Homo sapiens: one gene and its partners. The protein of the gene in region 3 interacts with the protein of the main gene of each other region in a pairwise test. Each region holds a gene or a part of one and is shown on either strand. Other genes may lie near its edges.

Region 1 (7,032 bases), on a different chromosome or scaffold from region 3:
TTAAAGATGCTGCAGGTCTTGTGGGGAAGAGAGGATTTCTGTGGTTCCTGTTTGTGCTTCAGGAGGAAATCCTGAGACTCCCTGCACACCCCTCAGCCTTCCCTGTCTCTCCTGAGGGTCCCCACCTTGGTCCCTGGGTCTGCTGTGTCCCCCATGACTGTGTCCCTGCCCTGGGTTGCTGCAGAGCTGTGGGAACCATCCCAGGTCTTCGCCTTGGGTACCTGGTTCGGGTGGAGCATCTCTAGGACTGACCTTGTCTCACCACCACCAGTCCCAGTCATGCATAGCTCTTGTCTTCTGCTGCCTGCTGTTCTGCTGGTCTGAGCCACTGTGCCAAGCTTCTCTGTGCCCACCCCCAGCGTGGCTTTCCCCAGTCACTGCCCAAGGCTCACACCCCATGGGTCAGAAAGGGTACATTTGACGATAAAACAGCCTTCATTGTATCCTTTGACCCACCACCCTGCTACCCACAACAGCCCCTCCCCTTTTTTCCTCCCTTGGGTCAACTGGTTGTCTGTCCCCCTCCACACCCCAACACACCATGAGGACCTGTGAAGCTTTACAGTAACAAACATATTTGGCATGTGTTGGACAGTTCTGATTGCCTCAGACCTGGTCCTTCTGGTGACCCTACTGGTATCTCGTCAGATGTGAAGAAACAGAGGTTTGCAAGGTTCCATCATGTGCCTAAGGTGTCCTGGCTGGTAGGGGGTGAGGTGCTTCTCAGATCCTGACTCTAACCGCTGTGTATGTGTGGGCCCTACATGTGGGCAGCCCCTCCAGCTTCTCTCCTGCTAGTGAGAGCATCTTTCCTGCCTGGGCCCCTGGGAGGTGGGTAAGCTTCTGAGGACTGGCCTGGATTGGGCCTTGGTGGGGATGTGGCTCCATTTCCCAGATGGGGAATCAGAGGCCCAGAGAGCCACAGGAGGCCTGGGGTCAGAGCTGGGTCTCATACACACACCAAGATCTTTCTTCATATTTGCCCCAAGAAGGAGTAGGGTGAAGGGGCTGGCCTAGGCCATCAAGGCAGAGATGAGAGTTTCCTGGTGTTGAGGTTGTCTGGTGGGGACAGGAGAGAGGGCAGCCGACCCCCTGCACAGTGGCTCCTTGAAACAGGCAATTGTCACACCCTGCTTGCTGATGAGCAGTCTGAGGTGTGGGGATCCCACAAAGGGGAGTTGAGATGGGACCCTGGTGGTCAGCTACAGGCCTGTGCTCCCACCTCCTTCATTTGGGCTGCCCAGTCACACGCAGCAGAGCTTGTCCCCTGTACTTCTTTGGGCTGACATCAGACAGGCTCACTGGGAGAAGGTGCTTACTTGAGGGAAAACTAAACCCCATGGCGACCAGTCAGCCTGTTTGAGCCCTTGGCAATTGGCCGTGTGCTGGATGGAGGTGCTAGGTGGCAGGCCACATGAGCCTGGCTGCCTACGCCCAGTAGTGTGGGCATGGAAGCACAGTGTTTGCGTCCTACTACAGCATCAGCAGAGATGGTGCCATCATCACCCATGACATGGTATGGCCAGGCCAGCATTTGACCTGGGTGTGCCTCTGTGTTCTGGGTTTGGCAGTGGTGCAAGGACAGAACTCCTAGTACACCTTGCCTGGGCCAGGTGATGAAGGACCCTGAGGACTCACATGAGCACTGCCAAGGGAACAGCAGTCTCGTGTGTGCCTCTGGGGGACCCTAATGGTATGAGGCATCTGGCCAGGCTCTCTGCTTCAGTCTTTAGTTGGGCATGTCACTATCTCCCTGCCCAGGCACATGGAAGCTTCTGGGCTCTCACTTCCCACTGCCTGGAGCACCTTCTAGGTTTGTTGATCTTGACTGGCAGGCCTGGGAGAGTTGGTGGGACTCAGACCTTCCCCTCAGCTTCCACTCCGCCTGAGGAGCCGGCTGGGTGGCCGCGTTGAATCAAGTGGCACATGTTTGCACACCTGCTGCAGACCACTTGCTTGCCAGTTAGCAAGGAAAAAGCAGGAACTGGGCAAACCTTTCTGGCAGAGAGGTACCCAAGTCTCCAGCTGGGGTGTGGAGAGCCTGGGTGTGACTTGGCTTGTGCAGCTCCCCTAAGCACACTCCTGGGGGGTGCTGCACTCTCACTAGCAGGAGAGAGGCTGGAGAGCCTGCCCACTCCCTATCCACCCCCCGTGTAGCCACTGTGGGGCCCGGCCCTGGTGATGGCTGTGCTGGTGCTGCTTTCTCCCGCTTCGTCCCAGCATGCACCTCGCTCACTTTCTCCTCTGGTACAAGGCTTTGCCAGGCCTTCTCTTCCTCCCTGTGTGGTATCTCTGTTTCTTTTGGTGTCAGCTTTCTGTCACTTCCTTGGGTCACTTATAATGAGAGGGCCATGTCTGCGTCCATTTGCTGTAGGTTTTAAATGTAATCTTCATTGTAAATAGTAAGCATTTGTCAGTAGTACTTGCTGTATATTGTTGACTCTCCTCCCCTCTCTGTTGCATTCCTTTTTTCCTTTGTTTTGGGAGGGATGTCCTATTTCATTTTGCCAGTATGATCGTTTTGTGTGTACTTGCATGGGATCTTGGAATCTTGTCTATAAAGTATGTTCCATTCAGATGAGTGCACACATGTGACCAGGAGAAACCATAGCATAAGCCAAGAGAACAGTGTGAGAGGTGGGCGAAGCTATGGGGCCCGCAAGATGGACAGGGCTTCTGGCCGAGAGTCCAAGAGGGCTTTGGAGCAGGGGTGGTGATGGTCTGGGGAGCCAGGCCTTTGCAGATACACAGGGAGGCAGCTGGGTCAGCAGAGTACAGGGAGGGGATAGAGAGTTTGTCAAGGGGATGATTTTGCCCCTGGGGGACATTGGCAACGTCTGGAGAGATTTTTCAGTTGTCACAATGGAGGAGGCAGCCGTGTCTGGTGGCCAGAGGTCAGGGAGCTGCTAGACATATGATGTACAGGCCGGCTCCCACCACAAAGAAGAAACGTCCCTGAATGTTGCTAGGGCTGCGGCTGAGGGGCCCAGGTCCCTGGCACATGGCAGCAAGTTGGAAATTCTGTCTTGATTGCATCCTGTTTGCCCCAACCCTGCACTAGCCTCTCCCATGACATCTCTTGGCTCCTTATGGGCAACTTAGAGCCTGAACTAATTTTTAACAGCTTTATTCAGGTGATTTACATCTCATATAGTTCACCCACATAAGGTGTACAACTCAGTGTATTTTATGATAGTCACATATATGTGCCCCATTCCACAATCTTAGAACAGTTCATTGCTCCAAAAAGAAAACCCATTTCAGTCACTCCCCATCCCCCTCCCCAGCTCCTGGCAGCCACTAACCTACTTTGTGTCTCTATGAATTTGCCTATTCTGGATATTTCATGGAAATGGAATCATATAATGCATGGCCTCTCGTGACAGGCCTTCTTTCACTCAGCAGAATGTGTTCACGGGTCATTCATGTTGTAGCATGTGTCAGTACGTCATTCCTTATTGTGGCTGAACAACATTCCATTGTGTGGAGAGACCACATTTTGTTTATTCATTCATCAGTCAATGGGCACTTGGGCTGCTTCCACCTTTTGGCAAAATGAACGCTGCTGCTGTGAACATGTGTGGACCGGTTTCTGTGTGGGCATGTGTACATTTCTCTGGGGTAGACCCTCTGTGTTTAACAGTTGCAGCACCTGCAGGCTGTTTGCCAGAGCACTATACCATTTATATGCCCACCTGCGCACTACTGTGTACATGCCCAATAATAGAAGGCAGGAACTACTTTTAACCCCATTTTAATTTAAAGATGAAGAAACCAAGGGTCGGAGCAGGCAGTCACGGGTTCCCAGGTGAGAAGGGCTGAGGGAATTTACTCTGGAACCTCTGCAGTCCGCTGTGCACTCTGGCATACTGCTCTGGGCTCCCTCTCCTCTCCAGGCAGTCACACTGGCACCTGCAGGCCAGGGCTCTTGAGTTCTGGCTGTATGGCTGGCCATGGCGTGCCTGGCTGCACTGAGCCCCTCTCGTGCCCTGTGGAGGCTGCTCATACCTGCCTTTCCCTCTCCCCCAACAGATCAACCAGAATGTGGAGATCCAGCGTGGCCGCCTGCGGGATGACATCAAGGAGTACAAATTCCGGGAAGCTCGTCTGCTGCAGGACTACTCGGAACTGGAGGAGGAGAACATCAGCCTGCAGAAGCAAGTGTCTGTGCTCAGACAGAACCAGGTGAGTCTTGGGCCTGTGGGGTGGAGGTGGCACGTGGGTTAACTGGGCCTTGAGGACCTCTTGCTCAGCCCCTCTCCCTGTTGGGAAGGGGTTCCTGTCTTATTCCACACACCCGAGGCCCAGGGCCAGCTTTACCACTGTGGAGGCAGGGGTATACTTGGTGGGACCCAGACTCTCCAAAAGATGAAACTCTGGCTGCAGTGTTTGCTGACATTGGCCAGGCTGAGGTGTCCCAGCCAACAAAAATGAAAACAAAAATCTGAGAGGTAATGAAGAGGTTACACCAGAAAACCCCAGATTGGACTTTGAGACTCCCCCATCAGGTGCTGACCATGAGGCCTGCAATATTCCTGTGTCTCTGCCTGTGACAGGGACAAGGAAGGTCCTCTCTGTCTGTGACGGGGATGAACAGGAACCCCTCTGTCTCTAATGGGGTCTCAGAGGGACCCCTGACAGGGACGAGTAGGGTCTCTGCCTGTGACAGAGATGAATAAGGAGGGTCCCTTCTCTTTGTGATGTGACTAAATTGTCATGTGCTCTGCTGTTCTGCCACTCAAGGCCTGAACTTGCTCTTCTCTCTGCAAGAGCCACACTCCTGCATGGTGGGGAATGGGAGTCTTTTCTCTCCCAAAACTTTCCCCAGAATGCCATGGATGTCTTCCTTGCTTTCCTCAAATCCTCTACCACCAAAATCCTCTGAGTCTCACCATCAGGGAATGTGGTATTTATGCCCGGAGGAGGAAGCTCATGTGTTTATGCAGAGCTCCTAGCCTGGTCCTTCTGTGACAGCTCGAGCTCATTAACAGTCTTAGCCACTGTCTACATTGTAAGTACCATTTGGTCATTGGTGCTGCTGTTGGCAGAGCCCAGCGCATGGTGGCCTTAGGAGAAGGGAAACTGAGGCTTGAGGCGACCCTGTCCTCAGGTTGGCGCTTAGTGGAGTCTGACTCTCTCTCCCTCTCTGGGATTCCTCACCTCCGCATTTGTGGTGCTGGGACTGAGGGCTCCATGCCCACCTCCTGTGAGCACACCTTGGATGTGGTAATGGGTGTCCCTTCCGACCCAAGACCCACAGAGATGTGCTCAGCACTTCCTGTTACTGGTTTGTTTCTTATTTTTTTCTCCAAATATTACAGAAAAATAAGAAATAGTTTTAGCAATTGCCCACAAATTCTGAGCCTCCACATCAGGCATCAGTTTCTATCTGCTTTTTCCTTGCCCACCTGCAGATACAATTTTCATGTAGACAAGACTTTGATGTTGCTTTTCCCACCTACCTTCGAGCTCCTCCAGGTCTGGGTGTCATGTGCATGTGGAGGTTTAGTGGTTGAGATGTTCTGCCTTGCGGGGAGTTTCTGTTCCTTCATTTTGAACTATGATTAGAAGTCATGATCATAGCACACATTGAAATATATTTTTATGTATCTTAAGATATTTAGTTAACTGTTAATGTTAATTAAATAACTTTATAGAATTTTTAATCAGCATGCACTTGGTAATATTTGTGAATGACTTAATACAAGGTTGGCAGCCTTCTATGGATGGATGTGTGTTGTTCTTGGTGCATCTCCACACGTACAGTCCTGGCTTGGGGCCACCTCAGACATTTGTGCTCCCCTTGCTGTGTCTGCTGGTCCCAGCGGTGGGTGGGCTGGGCTGAGCATTTCATTGCATTCGCATCTCATGCCCTGGAACCTTCTTAGCATCCACATCTCTGAGCAGAGGAAGCAGTCTTGGCCTGGACGGGCTGCCACCCTTCCCAGGATGGCACCTCACCTGGCGCTTCATCTTTTGCTTCATAGTGGCCGGAGTTGGTGTGCTGGTGTGTTTTCTTCATTTATGGGGCCTGAAAGGAGCTTCCACATTGCATTGATGCAAGAGCGTTGACTTCTCTTCCCAGGTGGAGTTTGAGGGCCTCAAGCATGAGATCAAGCGTCTGGAGGAGGAGACCGAGTACCTCAACAGCCAGCTGGAGGATGCCATCCGCCTCAAGGAGATCTCAGAGCGGCAGCTGGAGGAGGCGCTGGAGACCCTGAAGACGGAGCGCGAACAGAAGAACAGCCTGCGCAAGGAGCTGTCACACTACATGAGCATCAATGACTCCTTCTACACCAGCCACCTGCATGTCTCGCTGGATGGCCTCAAGTTCAGTGACGATGCTGCCGAGCCCAACAACGATGCCGAGGCCCTGGTCAATGGCTTTGAGCACGGCGGCCTGGCCAAGCTGCCACTGGACAACAAGACCTCCACGCCCAAGAAGGAGGGCCTCGCACCGCCCTCCCCCAGCCTCGTCTCCGACCTACTCAGTGAGCTCAACATCTCTGAGATCCAGAAGCTGAAGCAGCAGCTGATGCAGGTGAGCAGGCAGTGGGGCCTTCGGCACGCTGTCCCCACTCCAGGTCTGCAGGGCTCCCCGAGCAGTGCTTACCTGACACTCTGCTGATGTTAACTTTCCCTTTTCCTTACGTTGATTTTATCTCCTGCATCATTACGGTAAATGGAACTCCAGGAGCACACATAGAGGAGTCTCAGAGAAGTGGTTTCCTGGCACTGCAGCACCCACATTGCTCCCCTGTTAACTACGTGGTGTCAGGGTGAAGTGATGAGACACTGGCCCACATGTGATCCCTGCACGCAGGCCAGGTGTCAGGGGCCCACCATGGTCATGCTTGGGCTCATCCCCTGGGACATGGATCCCTGTTGATCCAAGGCAACAGAGTCCTGTCCTCCGAAGCAGAGGGCTAGGGTGCTAATATTCCCGACTACACACCCAGCCAGCCTAGAGCTCCACTTTCTTAGCCCAGATCCCCTGTAGCATGGTTGGGGAAAGAGCCTGCGTTGAGGGTG
Region 2 (5,216 bases), on a different chromosome or scaffold from region 3:
TCTTCTTTTCTTAAAATAAACATATGGTATTGTGGTATAATAAAAATTATATATTTGGTCTTTGTCCCTGGTTTCTGGCATAGAACTCCTAAAACCCTTGGAATTTCCTGATAGGTTGAGGTCTGGTCACCAGAGAAGGCAACCACATGATTAGAGGGTTAGATCTATCAGTCCCAGCCCCACAACCTCTGGATAGAGGGAAGGGTTGGAGCTTGAGTTCAGTCACCAATGGCCAATAATTGAATCAATCATGCTGATGTGAGAGAAGACCTGGAGAAAACTGAAATGGGTCTAAAGGAGCTTCTGGGCAGTGCTGGGAGGCCAGTGAGCCCAGAGATGGAGACTCTATGTCAGCCCCACCCCAACAAGAGTTGGTGCTGACAATCGGAGAATTGGTGTTGGAACAGCAGAACAGCAGGTATCTTTTTTTTTTTTTTGAGATGGAGTTTCATTCTTGTTGCCCAGGCTGGAGTGCAATGGCGCCATCTCGGCTCATTGCAACCTCTGTCTTCCAGGTTCAAGCAATTTTCCTGCCTCAGCCTCCCAAGTAGCTGGGATTACAGGCGTGTGCCACCACACCTGGCTAATTTTTGTATTTTTAGTGGAGACGGGGTTTCAGCATGTTGGTCAGGCTGGTCTCGAATTCCTAACCTCAGGTGATCCACACGTCTTGGCCTCCCAAAGTGCTGGGATTACAGGCGTGAGCCACCGCAGCCAGCCAAGAAACAGCAGGTATCTTATCTGTTTGTGTCACCTGGTCCTGATCTTCTCTTACAGTATCTGACGAAGCAAGTGGAACTTCTACGGCAGATGAACGAACAACATGCAAAGGTTTATGAACAATTAGACGTCACAGCAAGGGAACTGGAAGAAACAAATCAAAAGCTAGTTGCTGACAGCAAGGCCTCACAGCAAAAGATTCTGAGGTAAATTTTCTAGAATCTGACAAGGAAGGACTAGGGGGAAGTTCTTTAGTATAAACTAGAATAGAACATGGCTGCAGTGGGTTTGGGTCAATATGGGATAAGGTTTAATTTAATTCTTTTTGGAGAATGGAGATTAAATAGACATCCTTTCCAATTAAGAAAGCCCAGTGTGAGTGGTTTGCACCTAATCTCTCCTCACCGCTTTTGCCCTTGATTCAATATGACAAGCAGCAGTGGCTTCTGTCTGTTCCTCACAGCCTGACTGAAACGATTGAATGCCTGCAAACCAACATTGATCACCTCCAGAGCCAAGTGGAGGAGCTGAAGTCATCTGGCCAAGGGAGAAGGAGCCCGGGAAAGTGTGACCAGGAGAAACCGGCACCCAGCTTTGCATGTCTGAAGGAGCTGTATGACCTCCGCCAGTAAGAGCCTGCCTTTCTGTGGAGTTACAGCAGGGACTGTCTCATGTCATTGGCACATTCTGATTTCCAGTAGATTGAAAGTACCATTTTAAGAAAAGTCACTTAGCTATTAAGCTACCATTGGTTTGAACAAAATCACTTAAACATATAAATTACAGAGTTCTTAGATATTAGTAGTTCTCATTTTGAAAGTCTTGGAACACTTATTTCAGTGTTTTTAATGTATTAAATCATAGTTTAAGATGAATTCTGATAGACTAGATTTGGGAGTTGTGTTTTACATTAGAGTGAAGAAAAACAGAAATACTGGTAAAACAAAAATTCAAGCGAACAGGAGATTTTTTGCTTAAAGAAGTACCTTTATAATTTAGAGTTATAAGTCTGAATCTTTAAGAAGTATTTATGGAACACTTGTGTGGCAAGCTGTATGCTAGACCCAAGGGTTGGCGAGCAAAATAGTTTCTACCCCTGTGAGCTTTCAGTCTAACGGAACGGCAGATAAGCAAATAAAAACACAAATAAATAGTCAAGGTGCTTCAGACTGAGCAGGAGAAACCAGGTGGTTCATTTGGTGGGTCTCAACCTTGGCTGTACATCAGATCACCTGTGGGGTTTTTCAAAATGCAAATACCAACACATTTCCTCAGGCCTAAATCAGAATTTCTAGGTGCGGGTAAAAAGCTGCCCAGGCAATTCTGATGAACATTCCTGGTTAAAAATCACCACAGCAACAGTAATTTGCTGTAGTGATTCAATCGTAGTTACATATTATGAATCATTTGGAGAGCCTTTAGAAACCCTCAGGCCAGGTAGCAGACCAACTAGGTTGGAATCTGTGGGTTGGGACCCAGGCACCAGTACTTTTTAAGGTTTCCCTTGTGAGGTCATTGTCATACTGCTAGAATAGATGTTCTCTAGTACTTTTAACATTAAAAAAAGATTTGTCACAAAAATTGAGTTTGCTTTCATGTGTTTATTTACCAGCCTCACACAATTCCATTTTAGCCACTGCTCCAAGTGTGGCTAAAAACCAATCACTGTTGGCCGGGTGTGGTGGCTTACGTCTGTAATCCCAGCACTTTGGGAGGCTAAGGCAGGAGGATCACCTGAGGTTGGGAGTTCGAGACCAGCCTGACCAACATGGAGAAACCCCGTCTCTACTAAAAATACAAAATTAGCTGGGCGTGGTGGCGCATGTCTAAAATCCCAGTTACTCGGGAGGCTGAGGCAGGAGAATCGCTTGAACCTGGGAGGCTGAGGTTGCAATGAGCTGAGATCGCTTCACTGCACTCCAGCCTGGCGACAAAGTGAGACTCCGTCTCAAAAAAAAAGAAAAAAAAATTAGTCACTGTCACAGCTCCTCAAATTTATTTAGTTGAAAAAAAATCACCAGTCTTCCTCTCGTCATTTTCAGTGGACCTGTGTAATATATTCTTTCAATATTTTTTTCCCTAGACACTTCGTGTATGATCATGTGTTCGCTGAGAAGATCACTTCCTTGCAAGGTCAGCCAAGCCCTGATGAAGAGGAAAATGAGCACTTGAAAAAAACAGTGACAATGTTGCAGGCCCAGCTGAGCCTGGAGCGGCAGAAGCGGGTGACTATGGAGGAGGAATATGGGCTCGTGTTAAAGGAGAACAGTGAACTGGAGCAGCAGCTGGGGGCCACAGGTGCCTACCGAGCACGGGCGCTGGAACTAGAGGCCGAGGTGGCAGAGATGCGACAGATGTTGCAGTCAGAGCATCCATTTGTGAATGGAGTTGAGAAGCTGGTGCCAGACTCTCTGTATGTTCCTTTCAAAGAGCCCAGCCAGAGCCTGCTGGAAGAGATGTTCCTGACTGTGCCGGAATCACATAGAAAGCCTCTCAAGCGCAGCAGCAGTGAGACGATCCTCAGCAGCTTGGCAGGGAGTGACATCGTGAAGGGCCACGAGGAGACCTGCATCAGGAGGGCCAAGGCTGTGAAACAGAGGGGCATCTCCCTTCTGCACGAAGTGGACACGCAGTACAGCGCCCTGAAGGTGAAGTATGAAGAGTTGCTGAAGAAGTGCCAAGAGGAACAGGACTCCCTGTCACACAAGGCTGTGCAGACCTCCAGGGCTGCAGCCAAGGACCTGACTGGAGTGAACGCCCAGTCTGAGCCTGTTGCCAGCGGCTGGGAACTGGCCTCTGTCAACCCAGAGCCCGTGAGTTCCCCTACAACACCTCCAGAATACAAAGCGTTGTTTAAGGAGATCTTTAGTTGCATCAAGAAAACTAAGCAGGAAATAGATGAACAGAGAACAAAATACCGATCACTCTCCTCTCATTCTTAATTGAACCTCTAGCTCTACTACTAATTTGCCTATTGCCTATCGCCTCTCTCTCCCATTCAGACAAGTGTTTGTAGACTCTGAAGCCTAATGTTACTCATGACGTTTGCCTCATTGCTTTGCTTATTTAGCAAATGCATACAACGAGGAAAGGAGGTGGCTAGTGGTATCAGTTCTCTGATCCACTTCCATTTAAGCTCCCCAGGAAATCCCATGACAAACTGGCCTCTGGCTGGCGCGCTGATTAGACTTCAGTTCCTGAAAAGGACCAGTGGAGGGAAGAGCTATACTTCTGGAGAAGTAGGCCTGGAGTTACTACAGTATGGGGGAAAAGGGTCGAGTTAGAACAAAGCTAAGGCAATTCCTATTGCTTCCTTGCGCAACTTCTCAAAACGATGAAAGTCAGAAGGCTGTCAAACTCAAATATCTTTGCAAACAGTTTGAATACTGTGAATTCATTACGAAGAATGTTCGAGAGAAAGCAGGGGTCTAATCCAAAAGAAATGTCATTAACCAATACTCCAAGTCCTTGAGTTTTGTTATATCTGAACTAGTTGAACTGTGACTGACAGGTAATCCTAATATATCCAAATCCAACTGAATACCAAATTGAGATGGCAAATTTTTGTTTGATATAAGTTAGCTTGTTAGCATATGCCCTAGAGGGCCTCCATCCCTGTATTCTAATGTTTTTACTCAAAGCTCTAGCCTTTAGGATAGGTGAATATGTAAATCTTTTATCACTTTCTCAAATTCAAACTAAAGGGGAAAGATCAAACCCCTTCCCTTCCTACCTGTTTTCTGAGCTGGCTGACTTGCCAGCCACAAGCTGCTCTTGCAGAGTTCTTACCATTCCTGTAAATGTTTTGACTTGTTGCAGAAATTCCTATCTACTTTATTAAGCAGTATTGATCTGACTGTGGAAACATCCTCTCACTTGCATTCTTTTAACTTAAAACTATTTAAGAACTGATGTTCCGATTATTGTATATATTTTTCTAAAAACCAAATAAAGCTACCTATGAAAATGAACAGATGGATCTGTGTCTTACTTTCAATATAAGCCATTTCGCTCTTATAACCAACTGTTCACTTTTTTTCTTCCAACAAATATCGCGAGAAAGATTTGCAGTGATTTTTTTTTTCCTATTTTAAACAGGGAATCCTTGGATTTGTGTAACTTAATAGCACAAATTCTGCTCATATTGCTAAATGCTCATTAAAACTACTCTGGACAAACATTTTCAAATTTATATACTCTGTAATTTTCACTATTTCAGAAATGTCAGACTTGGTTCTGAATTAATAGCATTTGACAAATTGATTCTCAAAACATTTGATCAACCATAGCAAAGAAACTATACTATTCAAACTATACTATTCAAACTATACTATTAATGTTTGAATAGTATAGCTTATTTAAAAACAGTTTGCATTTCTATTAATAAGACAATATTTTTTAATCTGTTAGCCATTTGTAGTCTCCTTTGCCTATTTAAAGAGCTCTATTTATATATGCAGTTTTGCAGTTAGAAGTTTGAAAGTGTTTTGTCCCAG
Region 3 (7,032 bases):
GCCGCTGGTCTGGGTCTAGGGGCCGTCCCCATGGGGTCCAGTGATTCCCATGCAGCCATCCGGATGGGACCCAGGGCACTGGCCATTCGGCCCACAGGGTCCCAGACATGCGAGAGCCAATGAGGAAGAGAGCGCACGGGCAGAAACCAGAGCTGGGAGGGCAAGTAACGCAGTCTTTATTTACACCACAAGATAACACGTTGCGTGATGTGGTACAGAATACTGGACTCCAGTGAAGTGGAAAGAAGGTGACCGTCAGAAGAGGATATCATTGGTCGGTGAAAATCCACCCACACAAAACAAGACAAGAATGAGAAAACCAAACACAAAACCTCCAACTCCACTGAGCAAAAGAAAGAACCATCGGGCACGTCCAGACAATCCAAGAGAAACGGATTAAATTACAGAGGTGAATGGTGGCCACGGCCAGTGCGCAGCTCACGGCGGGCGCGAACAGGCATCAGGTAGGTTACAGTGTCGTTACAACTTGGTTTTCTACCACATTCCGTAAGAAGCTCTTGGGTGAGTAAGGTTCAAGCCCCCTGTATAGATAGATAGATAGATAGATAGATAGATAGATTATATATGTTTGTCATTCTCATCAATTGGAAAATAGCGCCTCCACTATGGAGCACACACGGCAAAAAAAACAAACAAAAACTGTTCGCTTTCTTTTTCTTTCAATAGCAGACTTTTAATCAATGCCAGAGACAAAGTGAGGCCGAGCTAAGAACACGCTCAGCTTCGTTACAATGAAGAAATGGTTTCCTTTCGATGCAAAGTATAATTGTAAACCACAGTGCTCGCACAGTTCACGACTGCTTAAAGTGAAATCTTAGCCATACATCACCTAAAAGTAATTAAAAAGTCAACACAGCTGTGCGGAAAAGGGGACTCTTTCGAGTCCGCCCAGTTCTCAATCAGAATAAACCGTCACAAGGCCAGTGAGGGCGGGCGGCGCTCGCCTGGCCCGTGGAAGGAGATAAAAGGAAACAAACAAAACAAAACAAAACAAAATTCCTCCAAATCAACTCGAGAGAGACAGGCAGTTCACTGTGAATTCTGAGTAGTTTCCCTAAAACACTGTTTCCACATAAATACAATAAACTCTATTATTGGTATGTCACAAGTGCTAGATAAACTTTTTTTCTTAATATGACAAATGTTTAAGTAGTCCTTTTTATTTTTCTTACAATAAAAAGTACAATTTCTTAAGAATAAGTTCAATAAGACGCAAACTTCCCCGCCCTCCTCTCCTTCAAGGTTTTGTTTTACAGAAAAATTTCCATCTTTTGTATCTGCAAATGTCATGAGAGGGGAACAGAAAGGCATTTTTCTTCTTCCCCAAAGCTGCCGAGTTTGGCGTGCAAAATCTGTATACAATATAAAGTCATGCCGGTCGTACAGTCCATGCAACCTCCAGGTGTAGGAAACTTAAAAAAATATATTCATATATATTTATATCTATATATTTATATATGTATCAATGCCCATAAAACACGTGGGCCCAAAGTCTACAAAAAGAAGAATGGAATGAGCACGTGGCTGTGACCAGTAAAGAAGGAATGTTCTGATCAAAAAGAAAAACAACAAAGTCCATTGCTAGTGCTGCAAAAATCAAACTTGCTTTTGTGTCAGACCATTACGAAATGGTCCTTCCCCTTGCAAACAGATTTTCAAAAGAAGTAAAGAAAAACTGAAACACCTTGACAAAGTGGCCCTCCAGAACCAGAGCCCTGGGACGCTGGGGAGGGGCGGCCAGTCCCAGCGGGCCACGGCCTCCGGGACAGCCGCCTGCTGGTGGGGCGTGGGCACGTGGGCACGCTGCGGCACGGCGGGAAGCCGCGAGGGCAGGGCAGACGCCAAGAGGCCCAGTGGCGTCATCAGGGTTTCCCTCAAAGGGATATAAAGTGCTCGCTTGCTGACTCCCAGCCAGTGCCCCCAAGGCCTTTGCAAAGGAAGAAAAAGGCTAAAGGTCCAAGGACCCACAGGGAGAACACATGAAGGAACCCTCCCTGACGTGGTCCCGCCTGCAGACGCCGAGGCAGATCCTCTGCCATCTGCCCTGGACGCTTGCTGTGGAGAAGAGCCGAGTGTGTCTTCAAAGAAAAGGCTACACAGTAATGCTCTCAGCACATTTGTGAAGCTGGAGTGAGCTGACAGATGAAACGTGCCTCCCCCTGCCAGGCCTTTGCAGAGGGCGTCTCCATTTGAATGAGATTAGAATTAAGTCCCCCCACTGATAACCTGGCCACTGAGCAGTCCATGTTATCCCATCATCTGCTTAAAAAAAAAAAGTGAGATGATGCATTCCTCCCCATAAGCCACGGCGGGGTAAGAGGGCAGGTGGCAGGATCCCCAGAGGGCTATGCAGAGAATGAGGCCAAGGAGGCCAGAAGAGCCTGCTAGCTGGGCCCTGCCACTGCTCTGTGCCATGAATGGGGAATGGACCAGCTCCTCTTGCCAATCTGGGCTTCAGAGCAAAGAGTGGCCACCAGGGAGGGGAAAGTCAAACAAGTCCCAAGACCGTTCTGCCTGCTCTCAAACCACTGTCTCAGAGCTGACCATCAGCAGCCCAGTGACCAAGTGAATCCAAGAATCTGCACTCATTTGGTCAAAAGTTTGAGTTAATTTCAGAAGCTACCCTGTAAACTTTACCAAACTCCGAAACTCGGCTCTGGGTCCCTCCTGAGCACGGTGTGTCTGAACTTCTGCCCCCAAGTCTGAACCCAATATACACTTTGGAATGAAACTGGTGGCTTCATGTGCTGGAAAATAAGTTACCAGTAAAACGTGACTGTCAGTTACTGTTGAAGAGAAAAAGAGTAAAGACTGGCTGTCCTGGTCAGGCAATCATACCCTCCCTGCAGGTTCACCAGGCAACAAGGGTCCCTGGGTTCCTTGCAGCCACAGGCTCCAAAATCCAGGGCTGGCCACGTGGCTGCAGTGGAAAAACCCAAGTGGGTAAAGAGCCCCACGTGTGCCCCATGCATTGCTGACATGCTCAAAAGGTCTTTGGAAAACTCAAGTTAGAATTCTATCCTGACGATGTGGTCAGAGAAGTTTAAACATGAGTTTCATTAATGCTGACTGCCCCCGGCATCTGGCAAGCCTCCCAGGGTGGCCGGGCATCCTAAGCAACCCTCCCTGCCCTTGCCACGGAGGGGAAAAACACACCACCCCTCGTAATACTACTAGTGTTGAAAGTTAAAAAGAGCCCCTGGGCTTCTTTATACAGCTCCTAGGACAGACCAGGAAAGACACAATCGTTGGTGTCACTCCGAAAAGACCTACGGTCCCTCCTCTCACTTTCTGAAAATAGAATCTGACAGCAACAATTCTGTACGCTGCAGAAAACTCATCGTACAAAAATAAAAACAAAAATAATTAAAAACCTTTGAAAGGTAAAAAAAAATGTACAAGCAAGAATTCAGAAAGGAAAAAGATTTAGACATTATTACCATTCAGAAAATTGCTAAATGGTGAGGAAAAATGTAAAATTCATAAAACAATGCTTATTCAGGATCTTTTTGTGAAAAAATTCATACAAAAATCAACAGCAAATTTATATTCTTTGCTATAAAAACTCATTAGGTACATATGTGCATGAAGGCTTGGAGACGGGAGCGGTTCTGTTAGAAAATAATTAAAATGAAAGTACAAACTTGTAGGGTAGTTGCCCAGTGGCGAATGTGTTGGCGATCTGAAATCTAGCCAATCTGGAGCTTGAGAAAACATGAATTTCAATCAATCAGGATCCCTTTCCATAAGCACCTTGAGAGCAAATTCACAAGCCATCCATTTGCAGGGACCTTCGCAATCTGCATTCATTTTATATATATATATATACTTTTTCTATAAATGCATTATAAATATTTTATCAAGATTTCATAAGAATCAAGTAAGTTTCTTAGCTTGGAATACATTGGAATATATATTATACATATATATATTTATTTATACCTAAAATTTAAGCAATACTTCATGCTACTTGCTTTTAATAAAAAGCATTCCGATCGTAACACTGCAAGTGTGCCTACCACATGCTTCACGACCAGATGGAGATGCTCAATCGTATGTGACGTGTGAGAACACTTTGGATTCGTTTAAAATTTGTTGGACTTCAAAACCTCCAACGGGATTTGCCACTTTTTTGGAACTACCTCCATTTTTCTTAAACAGCAATAAAGCAAAACAGGGACCGCCGGGCTGCAGCCCCTGGCCCCGGAGATGACGGCTGGTGCCCGTGCTTGAGGCGTCAGGCCAGCTCGCGGTGCCAGCACTGCCAGGCTCGGCTGGCCACAGGAAACTGTCCCACCGATTCCTGCTGTTTGTTTTTTCTTAAGGCATTGTTCCTCAGACTTCAGAAAACCCAGCCACAAAAATCCACCAGAGCAATAAAAAAAAAGGCACAAACTCGCATCTTCCGATGGCTTTTGAGAAACTCAAGCCAGCTCCCCCAGCTCACATTCCTGTTTCTGTCCAGTTTTGTTTTCTTTAAAGGTCCCTCTGTCCCCCACCCGGGTGCAGACCCCCCGCCGCACACCGCTATGGTTCACAGAGGCGGGCCACAGCCGTAGAAAACGTCCTCTTTAAAAAAAAATAAGCTACAAGATGAGTCGAGTGGTTTACACAGAGACTGTGGAGTTGTGGGTAATAAACTTTAAGCACCAGTTTTAATCAAGTTTGTTTTGTATTATTAGATCTTTGATATTTGTTTTCTGTGCCTCGTGTCAACTGAATTCGGCAGCTCGGCCGCCTGTTGCCACAGGCTCCTTTCTTCCACGGCGTCCCTTGCGGGACCCGCCAGAGTGTGCTTGGCTTCCGCGTGTCCGTGTGTCTGCGCGTCGCCGGCGTCTGTCCCGTGTTCCCTGTGAGGCTGCCACGCCCAGGCGTGCATGTGCGTCTCGAGACCTGTGGGCCTGGGCGGCAGAAAGGCTTCCCGTGGCTGTTGCACGCTGGGTGTCCCTGGGTGCTCCAAGAGAGCCCCACGGTGGGACGCAGGCGTGACACGGGAAAGTTTCTTGGCTGAGCTTCAAGACAGAGACAGACAGACAAGAGAACAGCAGCTTCGAGGGAGTGCTACAGGGGCGGCTCCTCTTCCATGGGCTCCTCATCTGGTCTGTGGATCCCGCAAGAGAAGGAGATGGGGGCGTGGGGCAGGTGCACCACAGAGAGGAGAGAACAGAACGTGGGTTAAAGGCTGTGTGCTGCCCCACCCGCCAGCCTAGCCCTGGCCTGGCAGCCCCGGGTCCATCTGTTCAGGATCTAATGCTCCTCATGCGTCTCTAAGGGGCTTTGGCACTGGAAGGAGGGGGCCACACTGGCCTGTCTCTAGTCTGTTGGGCAGGGCATGTGCCATAAAGGTTCTGACCCTGAATAGTGTGTCAGTGGGCACAGTGGGGCTGGGTGAGCCTGCAGGCGGGCGGCAGGGCAGGTGCTCACCTCTTTTCGGCGGGCTTCACGCCCACGGACAGCGAGGCCATGGCGGTGACCGTCTCGGCTTCTTCGTTCTCGCAAGTCTGAGCCTCGATCAGAGAACGCCCCGCTGTGGAGGTTGTGCGCTGCAGGCAGCGCCAGTACTTGCCTGGGGTGGTGGGGTGAGGAAAGTCGCTCAGTGACTACAACTTAGCAGGATGCACTGAGGCCCGGGAAGGTCCTGCGGGACCCTGAGCCTCAAACCAGATTGATCCCTTATGATTTTAAAAGCACCCGTCTTTGAAGAGACACGAAGCAGAAGACTGCATGGCTACAAACTCACAAAGACCCAAAAAATCTCTGGAAATGTTTCCCCATTGTGAGTGGCTCGAGTCCCTCCAGGAGCAGGCCCACCTAGGACTGCAGAGGGAGGCTCCTGTAGGCCTGGCTTTCCACGCTCACGGGCCCCTTTCTGCCCTGGGTGGCCAGGGCAGGGGGCTGCCAGCCTGCTGGGTTGAGCCTTCCTATCTCTGGGAGCAGGTGAGCTGGGGGATTGTCGCTGGGGCTGAGGGGTCTTCTGCCTGGGCCCTCACAGAGGCTGGGGGTGGAGGGGTACTGCGTCAGGCGCAAGGGGGTGTATGTGGAGGGCTGGGCCTGGCCCAGGGTCAGCTTCAGGGCTCTGAAGCCAGGACTCCCTCACACAGGGAAACGGGGAGCTGAGCTCTGGACTACCCCTGCTTCTGTGGACAGTCTCAACCATCTGGGTCATCTCAAAGGCAAGACAAGCTGGGCTTGCGACAATGACAGGGTGTGGGAGGCGCCTCTGAGATAGGCTGCGTGCCACGCCCTTGCACCCAGGACCTGCTGCTTGAGGGTCGGTGCCAGAACTCAGAGGGCCTACACCCTGCCTCTCTGCAGGGCCAAGGGTTCTTTGAGGTCAGGACGTGGGCTTCTCTGGTCCAGGGAAGAGGCCGGAGTCCCCAGGGTACAGGCTCACAGCCATGGCCCCCGCTGCTAGCTGGGGACCTAGAGCAAGTGACTCCACACTGAGACTGTCTGGGCCTTGATTCTCTAGACTTACAAATTGGGCTGATGGAACCATCCCAGCAGGCCGGGGGAAATCCAGTCGGGGTTAAATGTGAGTCTCTACCAGCTCAAGAAATGCAGCTGAAAGCAAGGCCTTCTGCTGCAGGCCTGGGGAAGCAGCCGGCAGTGGGATGGAGAAGAGCTGGGGGTATAGGGGGACAGGGATGGGGTGTGGTGCAGTCCCACCCCCAGGGGCGTGTCCCCTGTGAGCACCCAGCCAGGCAACTTACTGTGGATCTCCATGACTTTCTCCATGGAACGGACAGCGTTTGCATTGGGTCTTTGCTGTAAAACCTTTTCTGGGAGAGGATCAAGCTGGAAGAAAATGCATAAGAATATAAAGACTGCCAATATAATCCACACGTGCGTTAGACGGGTGTTCCGAGACTGCAACTGTTTCCTGAGCACAGAGACCCTTGTGGGGTGCATTTGCCCACAGAGTAGAAAAAAATAACTTTAAAAAGCCAAATGTGCCGTGGTATTTATAATTTTTTTGTAAAAGTGGATTTTTTTTTAGGACGCTATAAG

What was found.
Region 1: the proteins of HDAC4 (region 3) and BICD2 interact in binary tests that used the Homo sapiens proteins (3 or more experiments, as listed by UniProt).
Region 2: the proteins of HDAC4 (region 3) and CDR2 interact in binary tests that used the Homo sapiens proteins (3 or more experiments, as listed by UniProt).

The regions. Positions count from the first base shown.
Region 1 is NC_000009.12:92,719,809-92,726,840, reverse strand, and holds part of BICD2 (protein bicaudal D homolog 2), read left to right. Parts: intron 1-4,032; coding exon 4,033-4,185; intron 4,186-6,085; coding exon 6,086-6,541; intron 6,542-7,032. UniProt on the Homo sapiens protein: Acts as an adapter protein linking the dynein motor complex to various cargos and converts dynein from a non-processive to a highly processive motor in the presence of dynactin.
Region 2 is NC_000016.10:22,345,411-22,350,626, reverse strand, and holds the end of CDR2 (cerebellar degeneration-related protein 2), read left to right. Parts: intron 1-777; coding exon 778-926; intron 927-1,183; coding exon 1,184-1,348; intron 1,349-2,803; coding exon 2,804-3,662; 3' UTR 3,663-4,691; downstream 4,692-5,216.
Region 3 is NC_000002.12:239,048,015-239,055,046, forward strand, and holds the end of HDAC4 (histone deacetylase 4), read right to left. Parts: intron 6,820-7,032; coding exon 6,735-6,819; intron 5,588-6,734; coding exon 5,446-5,587; intron 5,123-5,445; coding exon 5,083-5,122; 3' UTR 154-5,082; downstream 1-153. UniProt on the Homo sapiens protein: Responsible for the deacetylation of lysine residues on the N-terminal part of the core histones (H2A, H2B, H3 and H4).